3 separate regions of the Homo sapiens genome follow, and all the other regions are linked to region 2. The links come from fine-mapping of genetic effects on gene expression. A gene starts in region 2. Each other region holds a variant in brackets. All regions are shown on one strand. Distances are between the middles of the regions.

What was found. PIP is the estimated chance that this variant, and not a neighbour inherited with it, causes the effect.
Region 1: its variant is fine-mapped to the expression of KIAA1586 in whole blood (INTERVAL, PIP 0.97).
Region 3: its variant is fine-mapped to the expression of KIAA1586 in hypothalamus (GTEx, PIP 0.93).

Annotation. Positions count from the first base shown.
Region 1 is chr6:57,145,614-57,154,154 of GRCh38, reverse strand. It overlaps ZNF451 (zinc finger protein 451), which reads right to left. Exons shown (of 15, transcript NM_001031623.3): 10 at 5,462-7,065; 11 at 3,293-3,436; 12 at 1,804-1,934; 13 at 108-294. All of the region lies in intron 2 of ZNF451-AS1 (ZNF451 regulatory antisense RNA 1), which reads left to right. Among named protein-coding and RNA genes, the nearest start is that of ZNF451-AS1, 22 kb to the left of the region's middle. The variant C/G (reference allele first, on the strand shown) is at 4,484.
Region 2 is chr6:57,041,937-57,050,477 of GRCh38, reverse strand. It overlaps KIAA1586, which reads right to left and starts at 3,785. Exons shown (of 4, transcript NM_020931.4): 1 at 3,702-3,785; 2 at 3,082-3,165. The coding sequence starts at 3,722. RefSeq lists enhancers at 2,320-3,197, 4,014-4,103 and a silencer at 4,733-5,027.
Region 3 is chr6:57,806,653-57,815,193 of GRCh38, reverse strand. LOC105375102 (a long non-coding RNA gene) reads left to right here. Exons shown (of 4, transcript XR_926901.3): 3 at 1,184-1,311; 4 at 3,777-4,053. Among named protein-coding and RNA genes, the nearest start is that of TRA-AGC24-1, 5.1 kb to the left of the region's middle. The variant AT/T (reference allele first, on the strand shown) is at 4,090.

The DNA of each region.
Region 1 (8,541 bases), 100 kb before region 2:
TTTAGCAAGCAGGCAACAGTTCACTAGCGGACAGCAGTTTATTGGTTTCTCTCAGCAGTGAAGTCTCCTCCTCTTGGGTGGTTTGCACTGTGACTGCAGCTGCGTACCTTTGGTGGTATCAGATATGCTATTTAACAAGGCACACATCATATCTCCCTCTAAGTGGTGAGGGTTTAGTATATGAGCTGGCCTCTGAGTCTTCTTAAATTGATTCTCTAGCTCCAGAAAACCTTGATCTCCTGAGAGGATGGTGAAAGGAATTTGCTTGGGTAGTTGTTCATCTAGACGGCCAGCCTAAGTTAGAACAAATGGCACAGGTTGATAAAAAATCAGCATGAGTTTCAAAACAAGTTACATCTATTTCAGAATGAACACATGCCTAGGAAGGTATATTAAGCTTGTTCCCTAGTCCCTACCAAAGTATGACATAAAGATCTCCTTCAGCTGGGTGCAGTGGCTCACGCCTGTAATCCCAACACTTTGGGAGGCTAAAGCAGGTGGATCGCTTGAGGTCAGGAGTTCGAGACCAGCCCGGCCAACATGGTGAAACGCGGTCTCTATTAAAAAATGCAAAAATTAGCTGGGTGTGGTGGCATGCGCTTGTAATCCCAACTACTCGGGATTCTCCAGGCTGAGGCTGGAGAATCACTTGAACTCGGGAGGCAGAAGTTGCAGCCAAGATCGCGCCACTGCACTCCAGCCTGGGCGACAGAGTGACACTCCGTCTCAAAAAGGAAAAAAAAAAAAAGAGAGAAAGAAAGAACTCGTTCATAAATGAAATACCCCACATTTAATCAAATATAAGATGCCATTAAATTATATAAGCTATTTAATGTGCCATGAAAAGAAAAAGCCAAAATGGAAGTCCAACAGACCTCACATAAGGTTGAAATGCCAAAGGGCTATACGCTCAATATAAGGGTAAATAAGAAATAAATCTGCCATAGAGAAAAGGTAAGCAAGGCAATTTGCATGATTCAATCTTGGCATTAGATAGACTGAAAAAGAAATCTTTTGTTGTTTAAACCATAAGCTGCAGTCAACAAGTTTGCAGAGTAAATTCACATTATCAGTGTGACATGTAAGTCCCCAAGCAGAAAATTTAAAGTGGGTCTCAGTTTGGCAGTTTCTCTAGGTACCCAGCAGAGACAGAAGCAAATGCAAATTCTGTCTAGGCCAACAGTGATTGTTAAGGTACCTCTTAATTTTAGAGATATTAAAATATGAAAGTGTCTTAATATATATCAAATACAGTATCATCAGCAGGGCGCAGTGGCTCACACCTGTAATCCCAGCACTTTGGGAGGCCTAGGCGGGCAGATCACTTGAGGCCAGGAGTTTGAGACCAGCCTGGCTAACATGGAGAAACCCCGTCTCTACTAAAAATACAAGTATTAGCTGGGCATGGTGGTATGCTCCTGTAGTCCCAGCTACTTGGGAGGCTGAGGCACAAGAACCATTTCAGCCCAGGGGGCTGAGGTTGCAGTGAGCCGAGACTGCGCCACTGCACTCCAGCCTGGGTGACAGAGCGAGACTGTCTCAAAAACAAACCCAAAAAACAGTATCAGCTCTTGATCATTTATCCCACAAATAGTTGAGGGTCTACTATGGATAGCTGAAGGTTTGCTAGAAGTTGAGGATAAAGCAATAAAAATATGCTATGGGGTCCTGCCTTCATAATAGTCATAGGTAGAACCTGAAGTACTGAAGAATGATCTATAAGTCTCATTACAATTCAAGTGGGGAAAAAAATGCAAGTGGGTCTGAGATTCACATTAGATTTTGAATAAAACAATGACTCACATGCATACATATGGCAAAATCAGCAGCATCTTTTCTTTTACTACAGCGAGGATGAAGGAAGAAGCATCCAATCCTGTTCAGGTAGTTATAAATCTTACAGTTGAGCGGAGGCTTCCAATTGGTGTTTCCTCCTATTAATTTTAGAAAAGGCAAAAATGATAATCAAACAGGAGAGGAAAGGCCAAAAATTTTATCAAGAAAAAACACATACTAGAAAAAAATTTTTCTAGAGGCAAAGTACTAGATCAGAATGTGGAAGAACTCCATCCTAGCATAAGCATCAACATCTTGTTGCTTTAAAGTCTTGAGAAAGTGGACCAACTTCCCTGAATCTGTCAACTCATCTTAAAACTCACATGGATATTAGGCAAAATCAAAAGCAATGTGTGTAAAAATTCTTTGAATGGCATTATTCTATAAGTGTAAGCATAAGTGGTTTTTACAGATGTCACCACCGTTCAATGCAGAAATGATGGGCAATCACCAAAGCTCAACTTACTAAAGCAATTATACTGGCTAACTTATCCAGGTCAGTATGTTTCTATCTTTAATCCCAATCTTTCTCTTTACATGCTATTTCCTATCAAACACAAACAATAGCAGATTCTCTGTAAACCAAAGAAGCCTCTCCCCCAAGTTTGGTCAACAATTTGTAAAGAGGTTTAGATGAAGCTGAACACTTAAGAACAGCAAGGATGAACCGAAGAGGCAGTTATGGCATGTTGAAAATAACATTAGTCCTATAGCTGAGAGGCCAAATAATTCTGCTATTTATTAGTTTTAAAACTTTGAGGGAAAAAAAACAAAAACAAAAACAAAACATCTGCTTCTTTGTATTTTAAAAGGGATAAAACCATAATAATCAGTAACCATGTTAGTACAAAGCCAAAGCACCTGACACATTTTAGGTGTTGAATAAAGGCTTTTTCAATCTGTATCAAAAGATCCATAAACTTTTTTTTTTTTTTTTTTTTTTTTTTAAGACAGAGTCTCACTCTGTTGCCCAGGCTGGAGAGCAGTGGTGCGATCTCAGCTCACTGCAAGCTTCGCCTCCTGGGTTCACACCATTCTCCTGCCTCAGCCTCCCAAGGAGCTGGGACTACAGGGGCCCGCCACCACGCCCAGCTAATTTTTTGTATTTTTTTTTTCTTTTTAGTAGAGACGGGGTTTCACCATGTTAGCCAGGATGGTCTCGATCTTCTGACCTCGTGATCCGTCCGCCTCAGCCTTCCAAAGTTCTGGGATTACAGACGTGAGCCACCGCGCCCGGCCAAAAGATCCATAAACTTTGAGTCACCAGATAGAGCTAACATTTACCACAGAGGCATGTAAAGAAAACGATTCTAGCAGAGTAACTATAATACAAAAGAACAATATTCCAATTATGTTCCTATGTTCTATCCAGGAAGGTTTAAGAGGAGCCTTTTAAACTGAACTATATTCTAAGAGGTGGGAAAAAGTTTTCTTTTGTTTTTCTTATTAACCGTACCTTGAAAGCCCCAAATAAATGTTCCTTGGTTTAGATGCCCTGGTAGATGACCAAAAAAGTTTGACCAGTTATCAAAATCTACAAAGACTATATGAGTCATGGTTCGCAGGTAATCCAAATCTGGAAGCTCAACAATTTCTTCCTCTGAGAAGAGAGAAATATCAACATGAGTTCAGTAAGAATTTGCTAAAATCATTCTGATTTCAAGTCCAAAAAGTATTAGAAGCCTAATATGCAAAAATACTAACCTTGAATGTTACTCATTTCTATCTAAACCTTTTTGTGAAATCCAAATCTGTACATGACACCATTTACACTTAAATCAGATAAAAATAATCTGAACATTTCACCAATTTTGGTTATATATCCTTCTTGCAAACATTTTCTTCCAACAACTCTAAAGCTTGTTAAAAAGTCACTTATACAAGGAATTTTTTTAAAAAATTAATGTACTAGAAGAACTAGAAAACCAAGTTTTAAGGTTAAATAAGCAAAAACTAATACCACCCATATAAAATTCCAAGGTTACCTATTAAGAACATTTTCACCACCAGAATTTGGTTCTTTTCCCAGTCTGGACTGATTTATTAGTAGCCCTCTAGTTCTAGGATTAAACACCCTAGAGAGCAGAAATAAGATAACCTAGAATCCTGCTGCCATAAAGCAGTGCTAGAAATATGTGCCAGTGGTACAGAGACACCTCCCCCTATAAACACATCTTCTTGGTTCTCTCAGATTCTTCTTTCACCTTCCCCCATGCCCCAACTCTCATTCTCCCTCCCCTTTATCTTGTTTCATACTTTTCCACTTTGACAAGGCCTTAAAGTTTCCTGTGGTAACAATGCAAACTTTAAAATGTTATATTATTTAAAAAATGAATAGTTTCTATTCTAATAGTTCCTTCAAATATACTACTGCCATTCCCTTCCATTTCCAAGCCACCTTACGTCTTTTCTCTAACTTCTCGGTAATTCTAGATTTAGGTATTGCATTTTCTATCAAACACAGACTAACACAAATTCCAAAAAAAAAGTAAACAGAAGCGCAAAAGAAAGGCCTAACATAAAATGGTGTAACCAGTGTTTCACTGTTTAGAGTTGACTAGGTAGCTCATGATTTAATTCTTTACCACTGAAAACATGCCATGACTAAAGGTGATGTTGAAATCTACATATGGTATAGAGCAAGACT[C/G]TAAAAATTCAATAGTTCATAAAAATACATTACTGGCCAAAATTTTCACATATTCTCACTGTACCCAAATATGCTACATTGTATAACTCACCAAGAATTAGTATTTATTTAAAAGAATATAGACTTAAGTCAGGTGTGGTGGCTCACACCTGTAATCCCAACACTTGGGGAGGCTAAAACAGGAGGATTGCTTAAGGCCAGGAGTTCAAAACCAGCCTGGGCAACATAGTAAAATCCCATCTCAAAAAAATTTTACAAATAAAAGAAGATACACTTAAAATTATACTCTAAACAAAAACAAATTATACTTCTAAACAAAACAAATTATACTTCTAAACAAAATAAAAACATAACACCTGCCTAGACTTACTTAATCCTATCATATGGAAGAAAGAAAGTCTGGAGTAAGTACAAACAAGGAATTCATATTTCAATTTTCCCCCTGGTTTCCTGCTACCACTTTAACTCTACTTCTAATTGCTATTTTAATTGTATGTTAAAGCTTTTCTTCCAAGTTAATCATAACAAAAATATACAAATGCTGAAATGACCTTTAAAATGTCTCACACTAAAGAATATGGCCAAATAGAAACAAAAAGAATTCACGTGATTTATCTTTTTAGTTAACCCAAATATTACAAGAAAAATCTAAATGATATTAATACTAGGATAACTTTGAAATCTAACTTTCAGAAAAACTATCAACTTCCTTCATCTTCAAAATCTCCACACCTTTTGTAAAATAAAATGATATCTAAAATATATATTATTTAAAGCCAACATATACTCTGTCCTCGTAAGTTTAGAAAGTGGATAAATGTAGTAGTAGGAATACAAACCCCTAAAATGTATATACCATAATAATTAACATACCATCAAGAAGTTACCCTGTTTCTTGCTTCAAAATTGAATCGAGGTGGGTACATTGTAAGTTTCAATATCAGTATATGAAATTTGCATAGAGCTATAAAGCCATACCTATATTCTGATAGCTTAGGTCATTCTCAACTCCTTTCTCCATGTCTAAACTTTTTGAATAGTTTATTGCCTGTTTCAGTTTTCTCTCTGTATGTGAGGCACTAGCAGTAAACTTGTACAGGTTTGATTTTTCAGATCCAAAATGAGCCACACTGGGTTTCTGTAAGAAGCAATGTTTTCTATGGAAATGCTGCTGTGCACTCTCAGGATCATGAAATGCTTTGGTGCAGGTGCCACACTTGATTACATACTGCTGCTCCTCCTCATCACTCTTTTCTTTGTGCACTTGATGGATATGAGTGTTCATGTCGGTTAAATTCTGTGCTGTTGCCGAACATAAACTGCAGCGAAACCACAGTTTTCCTTTATCCAGCATGATTTGGAGACATCTGCTATAATCTTCTTTTCTGTTGACTTTACAGATGTAACTCTCACGGCAACCACAAGTTAACTGGTTACTGGTCTCTATTACTGGAAAATCATCTTCGGTTTTAATTGAAGTTTCAGTTTTTTCTGACACAAATACATAATCTATGCTGTGGTGCTCCTCATAATGACTCAGAAATGCTTCTTCCACATTAAAGATAAGATCACAAAGCCCACAGAAGTATTTAATCTTTATCTCATTGTCATGCTCATCTTGGCAATGTCGGTACAATGTTTCTATCTTATGAAAAGGCTTTCTGCAGTGAGCACAGCTGTATCTATGAAACTTGTGGCTTGCCAAAGACATGCAGTGCTGTTTTACATATTCCTGGGAATCAAACATATCTTCACAAATCCGGCATTGCCATTTACCCCTCGGAGAACTATTTGCCGGGGAATGATCAATAACAGTAATAGCTGATGAAGGCTTGTTAGCAGTCAAATTATCCAATGTTGTAGAGGATGATGGCAAAGTTTCACCTTCTACCTCATCCATCTCATAAAAATATCTGTGTCCATTATGAAATTCAGTCACATGTGCCATGATAGTATCTTTCCTTGTTAACTCCTTTTTGCATGTCCGACACCAGAAAAGAAAGTTATTTAAATGTGCCCCTCCGTGAATCCGGCTCATGTGTAAACGAATGACCCCTGAATCATCACATACCTTTCCACAGACCACACATTTATAACCCATTGTGTTTGCTGAGAAAACATGCTTTTCTACTGCATCTTCACTTGGGAATCGCTGATTGCATTCACAGAACCAGGTTTTAACTACTGATTTTTCTTTCTGGACACAAGCAACACCTTCATGGCTTTTATCTTTTAAATTCATCTTCTTTTTTGGAATGGCAATGCACTCCAGTGAGCTAGATTCTTTAATAGACATGGTTCTTTTAAGTGATGAAAATTTTGATTGATCCAACAATAAATGCAAGTCAGAAGAAGGATCCTTGTTCCCTTCGCTGCTGTGGCAATAGAGTAAGACTGATTCTTCCACTGAGTTAATGACTCGGACTTTGTGTCCTGAATTCTGCTTATGATTTTGGGTGCTGGTTTCATCCACAAAGACTTGATTGCAATCTGGACAATAACCTCTTAATATGAATTTCTCTGCAACCTGGGTAATGCTCTTCTCAGCTACAGCTACAGGTCCAGCATTTCGACAATGAACTCTAAATTAGATAAAAAGAAATAGAAAGTCTTTCAGAAGTATTTTCTAAATATACCATTGCTGCATTTTATTGCAGGAATTATAAAATAACCAACGTATAAATAAGCACTAAAAGATACTTTTCAATAAAGATGCAAATGACATAATGATGTTCTATCATCTCAAAATACTTGAGTATTATCTGCACTTTATCTATTTCTAGTTAAAATACAAAAGGCTAAAACTAGATTCAAAATTTTTTAAATTCAGGCAAATTTTAGAAAACTAAAATCTGTATCAAAAGCACTGACAGAGGACCTTATTGAACAGGCAAATTATTAGACTCTCCATGGTAATTAAACTGTATGTAAGAACACTATGGTTAAGATTCTAGACAACCCAGTTCCTATTCTTTAATAACTGATTAATGTTGATACTATAAGGCTATGGTAACCAAAACAACATGTACTGGTATAAAAACAGACACACAGATCAATGGAACAGAATAGAGAACCCAGCAATAAAGCCACATACCTACAAACTACTGATCTTTGATGAAATTGACAAAAATAGACACTGGGGAAAGGACACCCTATTTAATAAATGGTGCTGATAAAACTTGACAGCCATATGCAGAAGAATAAAACTGAACCCATATCTTTCATCATATACAAAAAATAACTCAAGATGGATTAAAGGCTAAGACCTGAAACTATAAAAATTCTAGAAGAAAACCTAGGAAAACCCCTTCCGGACAATGGCCTAGGCAAAAAATTTATGACTAAGTCCTCAAAAGCAAATGCAACAAAGCCCTAAAATAGACAAATGGGACTTAAAAGCTTAAGCATAGCAAAAGAAATAATCAAGAGAATAAACAGACAACTTACAGAATGGGAGAAAATATCTGCAAACTATGCATCTGACAAAGGACTAATATTCAGAATCTACTAGGAACTTAACAAGAAAAAAATCCACAAATAATCCCATTAAGAAGTGGGCAAAGGACATGAACAGACATTTTTCAAAAGAAGACATACAACTGGCCCATAAATACTCAACATTACTAATCATCAGAGAACTTCAAATTAAAACAATGCGATACCATCTTACACCAGTCAAAATGGCTGTTATTAAAAAGTCAAAAAACAACTGATGTTGGCAAGGATACAGAGAAAAGGGAACACTTATACACTGTTGATGGAAATGTAAATTAGTACAACCTCTATGGAAAACAATATGGAGCTTTCTTAAAAAACTAAAAATAGAACCGCCCTTTGATCCAGCAGTCCCACTACTGGTATCTACCTTAAGAAAAAGTAAGCATTATATCAAAAAGACACCTACACTTGTACATTTACCGCAGCACTATTGACAATAGCGATAATGAATGGAATCAACCTAAGTGTCCATCAATGGATTATTGAATAAAGAAAATATGGTATATATACCATGGAATACTACTGAGTCATAAAAAAGAATGAAATCATGCCTTTTGAAG
Region 2 (8,541 bases):
GGTACGGTGGCTCACACCTGTAATCCCAGCTACTTGGGAGGCTGAGGTGAGAGGATCACTGGAGCCCAGGAAGTTGGGGCTACAGTGAGCTATAATTATGCCATTACACTCTAGCCTAGATAAAATTTAGAGCAAGACACTGTCTAAAAAAAAAAAAGAGGCATGGGAAAAGAGTCAGAGTACATGAATACGTAATACTGTTCCTGCTAGTAAAAAGGAAAAAAAAAAAAACATAATAATGACAAAACCCAAAGAGCCTAAATCTATATAGAGGAATAAAGCCATGTAGATTCCTTTCAAAATGGGAAATAGCACAGATATTGATTTAAAAAGATACAGATTTCAGTTAGGCACAGTGCCAGTCTCAGCTGCTCAGGAGGCTGAGGCAGGAGGATCACTTGAGCCCAGGAATTCAAGTCCAGCCTGGGCAACATAGTGAAAAACCCACCCCCTGGCCCTACCTCATTAAAAAAAAAAGATAACAGATTTCATAGTACAATTTTTTTTAACTGAAATGATTATCAGTAATCTCGAAGTTCTTTGATAACCCTGCTTTATCCTCCACATCACTGTACAGCCAAACATCAAACTCTGAGTCTTCTTGATCCTTTCTTTACATATACACTACCCTCATCATAGACCAGGCCATAAATGCCCTAGTCAAAATCCTAGATTTTATTCTGTAGGCAAAGGAATCAATAAATAACATCAAGATGGGAACATTATTAGAGCTGTTTCAAGAAGGTTAACCACATAAGAGAGCATGTGGGAAGAATACAAACAAGATAATCAATCTAGACAAATGGTAATGTGGTACAAAAATAGTGATGGCAAGGAGGAAGTAACCTTCCCTGTATAGGTACTATATTTCAATAAAATTTACATTAAGATAAGGACTCTTTTTGTATCCCCAAATCTTTTATCATTCCTTTCTTTCAGCATATTGTTTATTTTGGAGGCTAGGTACATGACAGAACACAAAGAGGATTCTGTGCCACAACGCAGAATGAAGGCTAGATAATCAACATTTATATGAAAAGACTAAGGAATCCAAACCAGAATATATCAAGAAGTAACAAACTTTTTTTTCTTTTAATCTGAAGAACCCACAAGCAGAGAACTATACCCAGCAGCATTGCATCTTTACTGGATGGTACTATAAAAAACACAGAGAAATAAGCATATCCTGGTAGAGCCCAGTATAGGATGGGGTTACAAAGGAAAGTTGTCTCTGAGTGTATTTCAAAGTGGAATTAAGTTATCATTGTCTTTTATGTGGCACCACTGAAATGCAACAGGGATGTTTTACTACATTCTTTCTGGTACTGCAATTACACTGACAGCATGTAATTCACTTCTCCATATAAGAGCTGTCAAACCTTTGATCTTCTATTTTGAACAGGGTTAAATATAAAGGGTTCTATCACGCTGGATATACAAAATATTGTATGAAAAGATGTAGAAGGATCTTTATATTTAAAATAAAATTTAAAGTAAGAGTTTTAAACCTCAGCTAAACACAGCCTATATATTAACTCACAATTTAAAATATAATGATTTATTCCTCAGGATATTACACAAATCTATACCTATTTACTTTTCCAAACTTAATTTTGTACATCCCATCTGTGTTTCTCAACGGCACATGGATCATGAATCAGACGTATGTCACTTCTACATACTTTCTCAATGGCACATGGATCATCAATCAGACGTGTGTCACTTCTACATACAGATGCACAAAAAACTCATCAAGATCATCTGTCCCAATCATTCCTGTTTTTATACCAGTTAAGAGGAAACCAAAATTATTTTTCCTAAAGACCCATGAACTCCTCTTCCCAAATGTTTCTCGTTACAAAAACAGAAACCATTGCTCTTTGATTTCAAGTTACGTTGCTTACTCCATAACAACAGTGAAGGCAGAGTCAGCATACAATCTCCCTTGGTATCATCAATATTTAGAAAGGTTCCAAATGTCAGGAACAAAATATACACACACTATTAATTGGGAAATATGTCCAGAAAGTGACAGGGTAAAGAACTTATACACAAAACACGAAAAACAAACAACGATGTTAACAAAACAATGTTTAGGGAGGAAATTTTAATTTAAAAAACAAGTGACTTACAAAGTCGCCCTAAACCTACAAAAACTAAAAAACACAGAAACATTAGACAGACACTCCATTAAAGAAAAATTCTACAGCCTGAATACCAAACTGCAACTAACTACGGCATTCCAAAAGACGAGTTGGGGACAGAACTGTTTTCTGCCTGGCGAGCTGAGATACCACTTTACGCAAAGCCTTTCTAAAACTCCAACAATTATGGATGAAAATCACCCCAAAATATATCATAAAACACTCCCTTCTGCTTTAGAAACCCATTCTGTCCAAAGTGTGCTCAGAAATCCTTATGTCCCTGCACTTGTCTGAAAATGAAGATTCCTAGGCCCCCGCCTGGAAATTCTGATTCGGTAGGTCTGCAGTGGGGCCCAGGAATCTGCCTGTTTATACTTACTAAGGCTTGAAAACTACTGTCTCAAAGGGAACAAACTCAGAAAAATAGAGCATGTTCCCAGTGATGTAGGATTCTTCATTATGAGCATCAACTGTACTATGCCGTAACATGATGATCTCAGAGGTTAGAGAAATCTTCAAGCTATTTGCCTTCATGTTAGAAGCACCATAACGCTAAGATTCTGGGCTCTCACAACCCTTCCTGTTTTCTACGTCCTTGCTCATCATTAGCAGCTCCTTCCTCCGTGTCGCCTTTAGAAGTTACTCTTGCTCCATTTCAAAACAGCGTTTTAGACACCAGCGTTTTTATCTTAAGTTTAAATGAAAGGCAGGGGGCGAGATTAAGTGTACAGCACGTTCTTTAGGACGTGCTCTTTGTGATGGCTACGGGGGTGGCTCAGATAGCTCTTTTGGTAAATTTCCCAATCCTGCGCCATGCTCCAGTGTCTAGTATGTATTAGACACTCATGAACATTAAATGACCAGGTGAGGTAACATTACATAATGGCCCACCATAGTCTTTTACTCTGGGAAAACCCCAATCATCATTGCTACTTACACTGACAAACTGAATGTCGTCTTCATTTTCATCCGTTGTTGACTCAGATGCCTCAGGGCCAGCTGGAGGGACAGATTCTATTATCTATAAAAACAAGCCAAAACATGCTTATCTGTTCAGCCACATTCGTGTAGGAAGAGAGCGTTTCCGAAAGGAACAATTAAAGACAGAGAGCTCTTGAGGAAAACGAACTGAGCACAATTTCACGGAAACCCGACTAGGAACGGAACTCGAGCTCTGGCTCTTGCCACAGAGTGTGCGGAGCTGCAGGGACCCAACGCTGAAAACGCGTTAGTTACCAGCCTCTCACAATTCCCCTTATCTACTCCAGGAGGAACGCAAGCTCAACACCGAAGGGCAATCCTGCCTTAAAACGTCGCTCCCACTGGCCCAGCCGCGGCCACAACGAACGCCAGGGCCCGTGCGGGGGGCCGGGCGGCCATTGTTGCTGCGGGTTCCTCGCTCAGACACGCACCAGGCCCCAGAGCTGGGCTCGGCCCAAGACACTGAAGAGGTATCGCCCCGAGGCTGCGACGGAGCACCAGGCCTCAGACCGCAGAAAACACAAACCCTTCGCGGTTCGCCTCTGAGAACGCCAGGACCCTCACTCGACTACTCACTTCCGACCCCGGGTCTCCCATGTCTCCGACGGCCGCGCTGACAGCACCACTGCTCCTGCTGTCCCTACTGCCGCAGCCGCCACCACTCCCCTTCCCGCCCTGCACCGCCTCGCGCTACCGGGACCCGCCCCTGCGTGAGCTGGGAGGCCACTGGCGGAAAGAGACGAAAACCGCTTCAAAAGAGGGGCAGCCCTCACTGGTCCGCTATCTCCCCGGAGCCTCTTTCTCTCATTCCCGGGCTTCCTTCCCCGCGCCGCAGAGGATGCTGGGATGGTAGTTCCTACCCGCCGCGCGACCGCGCCGCGCGACTGCCCCGCGCGTGGGTGAAGAATGGAAAAAGACTCTGAGCTACAGCGAAGTCGTCTCCCTTCGGTGTTGCTCTACTATAATAAAATAGCCGAGTTCTTTCTCTCACTTTTTCACAACCAAATATTCGTCTATGTAATAGATCAATGGGAATGAAAAAAAATTGTGTGTGATTTGCTCAGAAATTGCCTTACCAAAATCGTGGCTCACCTTTTTATTTTAACATTTATTCACAAATGATTTTAAACATGAAATTTATGAAAGCAAATTTTAACAGAGAATATTCTTTTAAAGCTTTTATTTGTTTACCTCTATCAGCCTAGGACCACCTGTTATTGACAAGTCTGTAGTCCCAGAAAATCACCTTTATCATTTTGACCCTGATCTACAATGCACAAAATTATACAACAAAGGAGCTATGAGGTATCTGATTAGCCAACTGATCTTCAGCAAAGCAAACAAAAACATAAAGTGGGGAAAGGACACCCTTTTCAACAAATGGTGCTGGGATAATTGGTGACCCACATGTAGAAGAATTAAACTGGATCCTCATCTCTCACCTTATACAAAAATCAACTCAAGATGCATCAAAGACTTAAATCTAAGACCCGAAGTCATAAAAATTGCTCAAGATAACACCGGAAAAATACCTTCTAGACATTGGCTTAGGCAAAGACTTCGCGATGAAGAACCCAAAAGCAAATGCAACAGAAACAAAGATAAATAGACTGAACTTAATTAAACTAAAAAGCTTCTGCACAGCAAAAAAAATAATCAGCAGAGTAAACAGACAACCCACAAAGTGGGAGAAAAGGAGAACATAGGAACAAAGGAAAACATAGACTTACTAGGATTTTAAGGAGTTGGTGAAATTTAAGTGAAGCAGTGTTTTGATAGGTTCAAAACCGTCTAGTGCTGTGTGTAAAGGGTTCAACATCACATACGGACTGCATAGCGAGCCCAGGGTCTTGTTAACTTCAAAACTACAAAGTTAACACACACAGAGTATTGTGCTCAGAAACCCCTTCCTCCGTGTAGCCATGCCCTAAGTGTGTGGATTTATTTCTGGGTACTGTATTCTGTTCCATTTGTCTGTGTGTCTGTTTTTATACCAGTACCATGCTGTTTTGGTTACTATAGCTCTGTAGTAGAATTTGAAGTCATGTAATGTGATTCCTCCAGTTTTGTTCTTTTTGCTCAGGTTAGCTTTTGCTATTATTCTCGGTCTTTTGTGGTTCCACATAAATTTTAGAATTGTTTATTCTGCTTCTGTGAAGAATGTCATTGGTATTTTGATGGGGATTGGATTCAATCTGTAGATTGTTTTGGGTAGTATGGGTAGTATGGACATTTTTTAAAAATAAAAATGTATTTTTTATTTCAATAGGTTTTTAGGAAGCAGGTGGTGTTTGGTTACATGCATAAGTTCTTTAGTGGTGGTTTCTGAGATTTTGGTGCACCCATAACCCAAGCAGTGTATCCTGTACCCGATGTCTTTAATCCCTCACCCCCTCCCACCCTTTCCCGAGTCCCTGAAGTCCTATGTGTCATTCTTATGCCTTTGTGTCCTCATAGCTTAGCTTCCACTTATCAGTGAGAACATACAACATTTGGTTTTCCATTCCTGAGTTACATCACTTAGAATAATAGTCTCCAGTTCCATCCAGATTGCTGTGAATACCAGTATTTGCTCCTTTTTATGGCTGAGTACTATTCCATTGTGTGTGTGTGTGTGTGTGTGTGTGTATGTATGTGTATATACACCATTTTCTTTATCCTCTTGTTGATTGATGGGCATTTAGGCTGGTTCTATATTTTTGCAATTACGAATTATGCTCCTATAAATATGCATGTGCAAGGATCTTTTTTGTATAATGACTTATTTTTCTGTGGTTATTCCTCTTCCTAGTAGTCAGATTGCTGGATCAAATGGTAGATCTACTTTTAGTTCTTTAAGGAATATCCACACTGTTTTCCATAATGGTTGTACTAGTTTACATTTCCACTAACAGTGTAAAAGTGTTCTCTTTTCACCACATCCATGCCAACGTCTATTATTTTTTGATGTTTTGATTATGGCCATTCTTGCAGGAGTAAGGTAGATTTGCAGTGTAGTTTTGATTTACATTTTCCTGATAATTAGCTGTGTTGAGCATTTTTTCCATATGTTTGTTGGCCATTTGCATATCTTCTTTTGAGAGTTGTCTATTCATGTCCTAAGCCCACTTTTTGATGGGGTTGTTTTTTTTTTTCTTGCTGATTTGTTTGAGTTCTTTGTAGATTCTGGATATTAGTCCTTTGTCAGATGTATAGATTGTGAAGATTTTCTCCCAGTCTGTGGGTTGTCTGTTAACTCTGCTGATTTTTTCTTTTGCTGTGCAGAAGCTTTTTAGTTTAATTAAGTCCTGTCTATCTTTGTTTCTGTTGCATTTGCTTTTGGGTTCTTGGTCATGAAATCTTTGCCTAAGCCAATGTCTAGGTTTTTTCCGGTGTTATCTTGTACAATTTTTATGGTTTCAGGTCTTAGATTTAAGTCTTCGATGCATCTTGAGTTGATTTTTGTATAAGGTGAGAGATGAGGATCCAGTTTAATTCTTCTACATGTGGGTCACCAATTATCCCAGCATCATTTGTTGAAAAGGGTGTCCTTTCCCCACTTTATGTTTTTGTTTGCTTTGCTGAAGATCAGTTGGCTACAAGTATTTGGCTTTATTTCTGGGTTTCTATTCTGTTCTGTTGGTCTATGTGCCTATTTTTATACCAGCACTACGCTGTTTTGATGACTATGGCTTTGTATATAGTTTGAAGTTGGGTAATGTGATGCCTCTAGATTTCTTGTTTGTGCTTAGTCTTGCTTTGGCTATATGGGCTCTTCTTTGGTTCCCTATGAATTTTAGGATTGTTTTTCCTAGTTCTGTGAAAAACGATGGTAGTATTTTGATGGGAATTGCATTGAGTTTGTAGATTGCTTTTGGCAGTATGATCATTTTCACAATATTGATTCTATCCATGAGCATGGGATGTGTTTCCATTTGTTTGTGTCATCTATAATTTCTTTCAGCAGTGTTTCGTAGTTTTCCTTGTAGAGGTCCTTCACCTCCTTGGTTAGGTGTATTCTTAAGTACCTTATTTTATTTATTTATTTAATTTTTATAGGTATTGTAAAAGAGGTTGATTTCTTGATTTGATTCTCAGCTTGGTCGCTGTTGGTGTATAGCAGAGCTACTGATTTGTGGACATTAATTTTGTATCCTGAAACTTTACTGAATTCATTTACCAGTTCCAGGAGCTTTTTGGATGGGTCTTTAGGGTTTTCTAGGTATATGATCATATCATCAGCAAAAGCAACAGTTTGACTTCCTCTTTACCAGTTTGGATGCCCTTTATTTCTTTCTCTTGTCTGATTGCTCTGACTAGGACTTCCAGTACTATGTTGAACAGAAGTGGTGAAAGTGGGCATCCTTGTTTCATTCCAGTTCTCGGGGGGAATGCTTTCAACTTTTCCCTGTTCAGTATAATGTTGGCTATGAGTTTGTCATAGATGGCTTTTATTACTTTAAGCTATGTCTCTTAAACATAGAGTTGATTTTAAGTGCCTTGAGGTAATCTTCTTTGGGTTAAATCTGCTTGATGTTATATAATCTTCTTGTACTTGGATAATAGTATGTTTCCCTAGTTTTGGAAAGTTCTCTGTTATTATCCCTTTGGATAAACTTTCTCTCTTTTTTTTTTTTTTTTTTTTTGAGACAAAGTCTCGCTCTGTCACCCAGGCTGGAGTGCAATGGTGCAATCTCGGCTCACTGCAACCTCCACCTCCCAGGTTCAAGTGATTCTCCTGCCTCAGCCTCCTGAGTAACTGGGACTACAGGCACCCGCCACCACGCCTGGCTAATTTTTGTATTTTTAGTTGAGACAGGGTTTTGCCATGTTTGCCAGGCTGGTCTTGAACTCCTGACCTGATCCACCCGCCTCAGCCTCCCAAAGTGCTGGGAATACAGGCTTGAGCCACCATGCCCGGACCCTTTGGATAAACTTTCTACCCCTGTCTCTCTCTCTAGCTTTTCTTTAAGGCCAATACCTCTTAGGTGTGCACTTTTGAGGCTATTTTCTGGGTCTTGTAGGTGTGCTTCATTCTTTTTTATTCTCTTTTGTCCTCTCTGACTGTATATTTTCATGTAACCGTCTCCAAGTTCACTTATTCCTTCTTCTGCTTGGTCAACTCTACTACTGAGAGACTCTGATGAATTCTTCAGTATGTCAATTGCATTTTTCAACTCCCGAATTTCTGCTGGATTCTATTTAATTATTTCAATTTCTTTGTTAAATTTACCTGATAGGATTCTGAATCCCTTCTCTGTGTTAGCTTGAATTTCTTTGAGTTTTCTCAAAATAGCTATTTTGAATTCTCTGTCTGAAAGGTCACATATCTCTGTCTCTCTGGGATTGGCACCTGCTATTTAGTTTATTTAGTGAGGTTGTATTTTCCAAAGTGATCTTGATTCTTATGTACGTTCATCACTGTCTTGGCATCAAA
Region 3 (8,541 bases), 760 kb before region 2:
GAGAGAGTGGTCTTTGGATAGATGACTCCAGGAAGCTCTTGTAGGTCCCTGGGACGTGCCCCTCTTTCCATCCTTCTTTCTTTCCCATCACTCAAATCTCTCTCTGACACCATTTGACTTCTCAGCATTGCCCTTTGTTAATCGTAATAGAAAGACAATGTTATTGATTACATGTTTTTCTATTTTATCTTCTTATTCATAAATGATCTCAAAAATGAATGTCATAAATAATAAACATGTTGTTGAATTTTTGTCCCATAGGAGCAGCCTCTTTCATTCTCAGGATGTGCTCTCCTAATAAACTGGGACCGTGAAGGAGGGACCTGAAGCTGCCCCAAACCACCTGCAGGTCCATGAAGGCCATGCCTCCACCCACTAATCACTCTGAAAGTAGTGCCCCTCCACTCTTCCCCAACCACATTTCCTTTTCAGGCAAAAACATTTCTATGGGTTTGTTAGACCCTAGCTTCTAATCCTTTCTTCAGTCTTTACTGATCTGAAGCCACTCTCTCCTTTGAGGCTTCTAAATTATCTGTATAGCCTTTCTCCATTCAGCAAATTTTCATCAGGCAAAAATCCTACTTGACGCTAGTTATACTCAGAGTAAAATAACTATTTTCCTGTCTTAAATGAGAATTCTTCACAGGTGGAAAGCAGATTTGGAATCCACTACAACTCCAAGGCAGTGGAGCTAATGTAGCCTCCCCTGGGCTACAGGGGAAGCCTTCTTCTGTGGGCCTGGGAATTGAAGAACTAGACAGGCATAAGAAGGACAAGTGTGGTGCCCAATGGAGCAAGAGAAGGGGGGAGGAAGGTGACAGGGAAGGGAAATGGCAGGAGAAGCACCTACACAGCAGACACGGTATAACCTGCATCTGTTTTTCCTTTTGGCTGAGAGATCCCTGAGCTCTGTGGTGACAATTTTCCATAATTTTTCATATAAAAAATGAAGATTATAAACTATTTCTAGGCATTTTACCTGCATTACTATTAATATGTGTACAGCATCTAAAATAGGGCCTAGACGGCAATTGCACAGTACTATTACTTGCTATTGTTGTGGCACTTTCTGTGTGGATCACTGGCCTCATCCACTGTGCCTGGTGCTGAAGAAGTGCTTCAGGAATGAATCCACAGATTGAGATGAAAATTCACAAGCTTTCTCTTTCTCAACTCCTCCAAGGTTCTCCATCACTTTCTGAGTCCTACAGGAGGAAAGTGCTATTGAAGATGAGGCGCGTATGGCGTGAAGTTCTGGGGCTGGGAGAAGCTGCCCCGCTACTTCCGGGTGGCCTTGCCTGCAGGGAGCAGGTGAGGATCACAACTCTAGAGCGGGCTGGAATAGCTGTGCCCGCAAGCCAGGCAGTTCCAGGTGGTGCTTCTCCAACTGGAACGTGCTCTCTAATTCCGAGAGATGAAGAAGGCGAAATTGGGAAGTGAGGAGAGAGGTCTCCCTCATGACCTATTTTGGAAATCCGTATTCTTCACACTCTCAGGCTCGTAGAAGTTTGCCCAAGGCAGTATCTGAGAAGCTCCGCCCTCAATCTTGTCCTGCCAGGGATTTGGCGGCCCAAAGTACCGGCAGGCTCCTGATAACCAGGAAAATGGGTGGGGTGGCGGGCCTCCTCAGTGAGGAATTAGCTCAGGCGGTAGAGCGCTCGCTTAGCATGCGAGAGGTAGCGGGATCGACGCCCGCATTCTCCAGTTTCTTATCTGGTTTATGTCTCTTAGTTTGTATTCCCCGTTGTTTCTCCTGTTGACGACATCTGTGCCTCTTATCTGGGAGAAGATCAGAGGAAACTGCCGCCTCCCCCAAGCACGTGTTTTACTGCTCCCCATGTAAGAGTCTTGTTGCCCCTGCTTCCATCCTCCCATCTTTTCCACTCCTGCCACAGGTTTGGCACTTCTAGCTACTCAGGTCTTAATGCAAATTTCCCGTCTTTAGACAAGTACAGCTAAAAGTGATGCCCACACGATCTCTCAGTTCCTACTACATCTTCACAAATATCGTCTCCTCCAGAAAGTATGTCTTTAAGATACTGGTTTGTTTTTCTCTCCCCTAGAGTGGGAGCTTCCTGAGTACCGAAACGCTGTCTATGTACACTGTGTTCAACTCGCTTCATCCCCATGTGTAGAGTTAAAGTTCTGTAAAATACGGTTACTGCCTTGAACAGATAAGGAAACAGGGAGATCAAAGACAGAGCAATACTTAAAAACATTATCCTGCCACATTTCTAAAATCTTAATAATAGCATTCACTAATGTTTTTGGTTTTTCTTTGTGCTTTCTCCATATCCCCTTATCATTATTATTATTATTTTACATTTGGCTGACCATTTTACACTTCTTTTTCAAATGACCAATCAGATTTTGCAATTTTCTAGTTAATTCCTGTGTTTCCTTCACCATTCTATTTTCTTTTTTTTTCTTTTTCTTTTTTTTTTTTCGGGCGGCTTCTTCTTCTTCTTCTTCTTCTTCTTCTTCTTCTTCTTCTTCTTCTTACTTCTTATATTTAATGCACTGATTTCTTCTAATGTTTTGTAACTTGGGTATTCAAGGTGTAATTTAAAATGAGAAAGCAGTTTCTACAGAATCCTTAGAAATATGTCATTATAAGTCCCCATTTTCATTATATTCTAAGGAGCTTGAAGATATACTTTTGATTCTTTTTAAACTGTGCATTCGAGAATTAATCTCTTCTTGTTTACTTTTATGTTCAGTCTTTCAATGTTATTTTCTAATTTTTGTGTATCATTTTATTTATCAACACATAAATATATACATTCACATAAGTATACGAGTTATATATACATGTATTTATGAACGGCAGCTGAACCACACATTAGTGCTAATATTGGTGACTAAAAGTTGGAGAACCAGACATTATGTACCTCATAAAGCGAAGCAATGGAAAGTGCACAAGCCCACCTATCAAATTGTCTTGTTAAAAGATTTGAAGCTGAATCTAAGTGAGCCTCTACTTGTAACTACCAGTTTACAAGAAATAGAGTAGATTAAAAAACATGTCAAGGGGCAGGAAATAGATACAATGAAATAAATACAACATAGAGGTGTTTCTAAGGATAAAAGGCCCAGTTCCTTCAACAATTAACTGGCATTAACTCTTTATGATACTATAATGATAAATATATGTCATTATATATTTGTTAAAAAAAAAAAACCCAGGATGTATAACACAAAGAGCAAACTATAATGTAAACTGTGGACTTCAGTTAACAATAATGTATTACTAATTACTGGTTTACCAGTTGTAACAAGTGTACCATACTGATGCAAGATGTTAATAATAGGGAAAATTGTAAGAGAGGGAGAATGATGGAGTTTATGGAAACTCTATCTATTCTGATCAATTTTTCTTTAAACCCAGAACTTCTCTAAAAAATAATGTCTATCAATTTAAAAAAAAAGTCTATCAATTTAAAAAAATAATATCCATAAAAGAAAGACCAGGGACCTTTTATGGATGAAAAGAGTCTTAAAAAACATAAAAATCTGTAGATTTTACTTTATTATTTATAATCAGCCATTAAGAGAAATTTTTTTTGTATGGGTGACAATCAGAAAAAAAAGTTAATATTAGATCATATTTATGATCTATTACCAATTTATTAACAACAAGTACATACACACATGCAAAACACGGCCCTAAAATGTCCTAGTTCTCTCAAGCTATTGATTTCATCCTTATCTCTGCTGCTGAGTTCAAGAAAGTGAAATGTGTAATGGGTATCTCTCCTTTCCAACCTTCCTTCCAGTTCACAACCTAGTGCTGTCCACTTGCATGGGATGTTTCTTTTCCATCACAATGCTCTGAGATAACGAAGTCGAGGGAAGTTTGTGCAGCCCTCCAGACCCTCCAGATTTCAAAGGAAAGCCCACCGCTGCTGGTCTGGGGGAGCTGATGGCCTATTCATGGATGAGATGGACTAAGGACAGTGGGAAGCACAATGGACCAACAGTATTGTTGGAGGGGACTGCGTGAGGAAGCAGGAGCCTAAACAACACTCTCCAGATACTGCGTGAACACTGTCTCCAGAGGGGTCTTGTAGCATCAAAAATTAAAGCTAA[AT/T]GTTGATTTCTTTCTGGTAATTATTTTGTTCAGCAACCTGGAAAAACGAACAAAAATTATCTCATTCCCTTTCCTATCTAAAGTCTGAAATATTTAATTAAAATGATAAAATTTAAAAAAGTGTTTATTAGGCCAGGCTCGGTGGGAGGCCGAGCCGGGGGGCGGGGGAAAATCACTGGAGGCCAGGAGTTTGAGACCAGCCTGGCCAACATGGCGATACCTCATCTCTACTAAAAATACAAAATTAGCTGGGCGTGGTAGTGCACGCCTGTAATCCCAGCTACTCGGGAGGCTGAGGCAGAAGAATCGCTTGAACCTGGAAGGTGGAGGTTACAGTGAACCGACATCGCACCACTGCACTCTCAAAAAAAAAAAAAAAAAGTCTTTATTGAAAGTTTTAAACTTAAAAGTGCTCTCACATATAAATACATCATTTTCTCTATATACATGATTTTTGCAAGTATACATGTCTAGACACCCTAGGAATGGTGGTGCCGTGGTGTGAACGTGGAGCCTGGAATGGCCAGCCCCAAAACCTCCTCCTCATCAACTGTTGACTCATCAACAGTCAGTCAGTAATCATAACTTCCTTAAAATACAAGAGCCGCAGAACATTCCGGGATATCTGTGCTACTTAATCTGGCAGTTCCTACTGTGTCTTGCCCCAGGTGTGACGTGCTCTCTTCCATGAAATTAATAACTGCAAACTGTAATGGGAACAAGGCAATTGATTGTCTCCGCACTCTTGCCCAAAGCGTTCTCTGAGATGTTTGGTAGTTATTTGGGTCCTTACTTGATCTTCGTGGCCTTAAAACAAAGGGAATATGGCATTTGTGAATCTGAAAGACTTGTGATAATTTTCTCATTTCCTCCAGGCTGTGCGCATCACCCTGAGTTTGCGGAGGGATCAGCCCTTTTTCAGAGCCCCCTCACGTCCTGAGTATCATCCTCAGAATGTGGGGCTTGGGCTCAATTTGAAGAGGGTGTGAGGGAAAGCCAAAATGCAGGGATTGTCCCACAGTGCAGTCCTGCTTTGTAAATCCCTTCCTCTGACTAGCTTGATTTTAGTCTCTGAGAATGGATGGGGTGGGATGGCTTTTCAGTACTTTCTGCTGAGATATTTTTGTACATTCATTTCTCTCTCAAGGAGCCTCTATAACAAAAGAGAAAAAACTGTCTCGGGTTCTGTGTGTGGCACATGAGTTTGAAGGATTTCTGAGACTATTGTTCAGGACTGGCGTTACAGATGAAATATAGATTCAGGACCAGTGACGATGGGATCCTTGGCAGGCGGACATAACGCCTCGTTAAGGACAGACTGCCCACCACTCTCTTTCTTTCTCTCTTTCCGAATTCATTTTCTATAAATTCCACTGGGTATCAGAACCTTCCTTAGGCTGACTGGCGCTTCGCAGTCTCCCCTCCAAGCCCGGATCTGTTCCCCAAAATTCTCTCGTTCATGCTTCTAGCTTCTCTTCTTAGCTTCTCTAGGTTCTCTTCTTAGCTTCTCTAGGCTTTCCTTGTTTCCCAGGTTGAATCCCCAGTTCCAAGCGGCTCCTGTAACAGGGAGTGGGAGCCCACCCTCCCACTCGCCGTGTAGCACTCTGCATCTCTGAGAAGAAAGTGACCACCCCAGCCCAGCACAGATTTTCTTCGTCTTTGAGCACCTGCTCGGAGTTCCCGCCCCTCGTCACTCCTTGGTTTTCCCTCATTGCCTACATAGAGTCTGTTGGATGTCGGTCAAGGTATACCCAGCCCCTGCCATGGGAACCTTTTGGGGAAAAACAGACCTGATTTATTTATACTTCAAAGATGCCCAATGATTCCCTGTCGTCTGTGTACCATAAAAATAAAAACAGATAAAAATAAGAAGATCAATGTATTCGACATCTACACCCAGGCGTACAGCTCTCAGATGATCAACTGGGAAGCGACTGTTGCCCACCCAGAGGGAAGAAAGGAGCAAAGCCGGAGGATGCGGACGCAGACCCTGCAGGCCGCTGCCTCCCAAGTGAGCGGGTTACAAATTCCGCTAACCTCAGCCCCCTACCCCGCTATTGGCTATTTGAGGCATGTGGGGGATTTTTCCGGACTAGAAGTCTTGTGTTCCACCTGGTTTTTCGGGACCACTCAACATTCCTGAGCTCCATCCCTGCCAAGGTGGAGCCAGCACAGGACTGCAGGCGGAGTCTCCAGACTCATCCAGAAACAGCCACTGCGCGGAGCCGGGAGCGCGTGTCAAACGAGCACCCACAGAAGCTCTGGGCCCGACACGATTCCACTTGCTTGATATTTCAGAAAAGAAGGAATTATACCCCAGCTGTAAAGGGAATATGGGTTACAGCTATAACAAGTACCGGGAAGGTAAGCGTTCCTTGCAAAAGCTGCCTTTTCTCAGGCTCGAACATCAGGACCTTCAGATTATGAGACTGACGCGCTGCTCACTGCGCTAAGAAGACGACGAAGTGCAACGGCGCGCCAGCTTCCACAGGAATTTCCTAATTTCTTTCCCCAGGCGGGTTATTTTGGTACTTCAGTTTTATTCGCCCAAGGTCGCTAGTTTTCCAAGATTATTTCCAATAGGCACGCGTAGGATCCTTTTTAGCCCATAGGAAGAACCGCACACTCGGAAGCCATAGTGTACTGAACAATTATGCCTGATCTCATTTTCTATTGATCTGGATCTTCGTCCCCTCAGATATATTAGGCAATATTTACTGTCCAGTTCCGTTAGTTGGAATAGCGGGCTCTCACTAAATGCTAGTTGAATGAATGAAAAGCTCCCAAACATGCCTGCAGTTTACACTTACCTCTCTTAATTTAAATTTGCATTTCCACTTATGTCACCTGAGATAGTCCCCTCAAAATATCACCAACTGATTTTATGATGAGTCTTCATGTTTTCTTCACCTCTATGTTGCAAATACCCTATTAAAGATTTTATTCCCGTAATTTCATTTAGTCCAATTTCTTTATTTATTTATTTGCCATAAATCTATACATCATTATCCCCATCTTACTGATGAAACTGAGGCTCAGCAGAACTAAATCCACAGCTGATAAGGGGCAAAACCAGATCTTGAAAGCAGACTTTGTTTTCCAAAAAGTGTGCTGCCCTCTTTCTCCCTCTAGATCATGTAATCTCCCCTTTTCCTCTCCACACTACCACACTCATTTGTTAAGCAAATAGCTATAGAATTTTAGATTCGTTGGTCCATTCAACAAACTGTAATTCACCACCTGCCATGTACCCGGCATTTATGTTCTAGATTTCCAAGGCATCCTTGGCCCTTTATCCCTCACATCCCTACAAACACCTTAAATCATTAGTTCTCAAAGTGCGGTGCCCAGACCCACCACATAATTCTTGAGGACACATTCCATTTCAGGCACTGTGCTACCTGAAGGCTTTGAGGATTCAGAGGAAATTGAGCCATCCCTGACCTCAGGAGCTGACAGGACAAACTGTCCTATCCGGTCCGGTTCCTGTACTCTCAAACTTCCGGATTCTTATAAATGCATCTTCCTAAATATTTTATTTTGATACTGTAACTCCCACTCTGCACTAGTTTGCTAGGGCTGCCATAATAAATATCACAGACTGAGTGGCTTAACCAACAGAAAATTTTCTCAGTTCTGGAGGCTAGAAGGGTTGTTAGCTTTGGTTTCTCCTGAGGCCTCTCTCCTTGGCTCGCAGATGGTCACTTACCTTCTTGCTATATTCTCCCACGGTCTCTCTCTCTACACATATTTCCATCTTTTCTTATAAGAACTCCTATTGGGAGTTAGGGTTTCGACATGAATTTGATGACAGGTGGGGCGGGACAAAATTCCACCATGACAGGCTCAAAGTTGTTTACATTTTCACCTTCATATTTGCAGTAGACTTTGTTACTGGAAAGCACTACTTGCTTTTTTTTTTTTTTTTTAACACGTATTTTAAAGCCCCTTAATTAAACAGACCATATACCTTTCCTTATCTAGGAATTGCCACTCCAGTGCCTCGTCCACACATCCATTATTTCTCCTCATCTCCATTCTTCAAGGCCCATTCTTGATTCTTTCATTCTTATTTGAAAGAATGTAGCATGGAGGAATGTAGCATACTAGTTTTTCCCTCGGAATTGCATGACTCATTGTCATGCAAATTACCCAGTCTCAGGTGTTCCTTTTAGCAACACAAAATAGACTAAGGTGTGTACATTTTTGTACTTGTCAAATGTGGTTAGAATACCAAATGAGGTACTGCCTCACAGATCCCTGAGATGTCATTACTTGGCATAACAAAATCATAATATAGATATCATAATAATACATAAGCAGACAGGGAAAAATCATAGTAATAACAAAGCTCATTAAGGGATAGCCACATAAGTTTATCAGTTAGTTCTCTCTAAACTCTGTAATATGAATGTGGCCAATCTCTGGGATTTAATAATACAAAAAATATG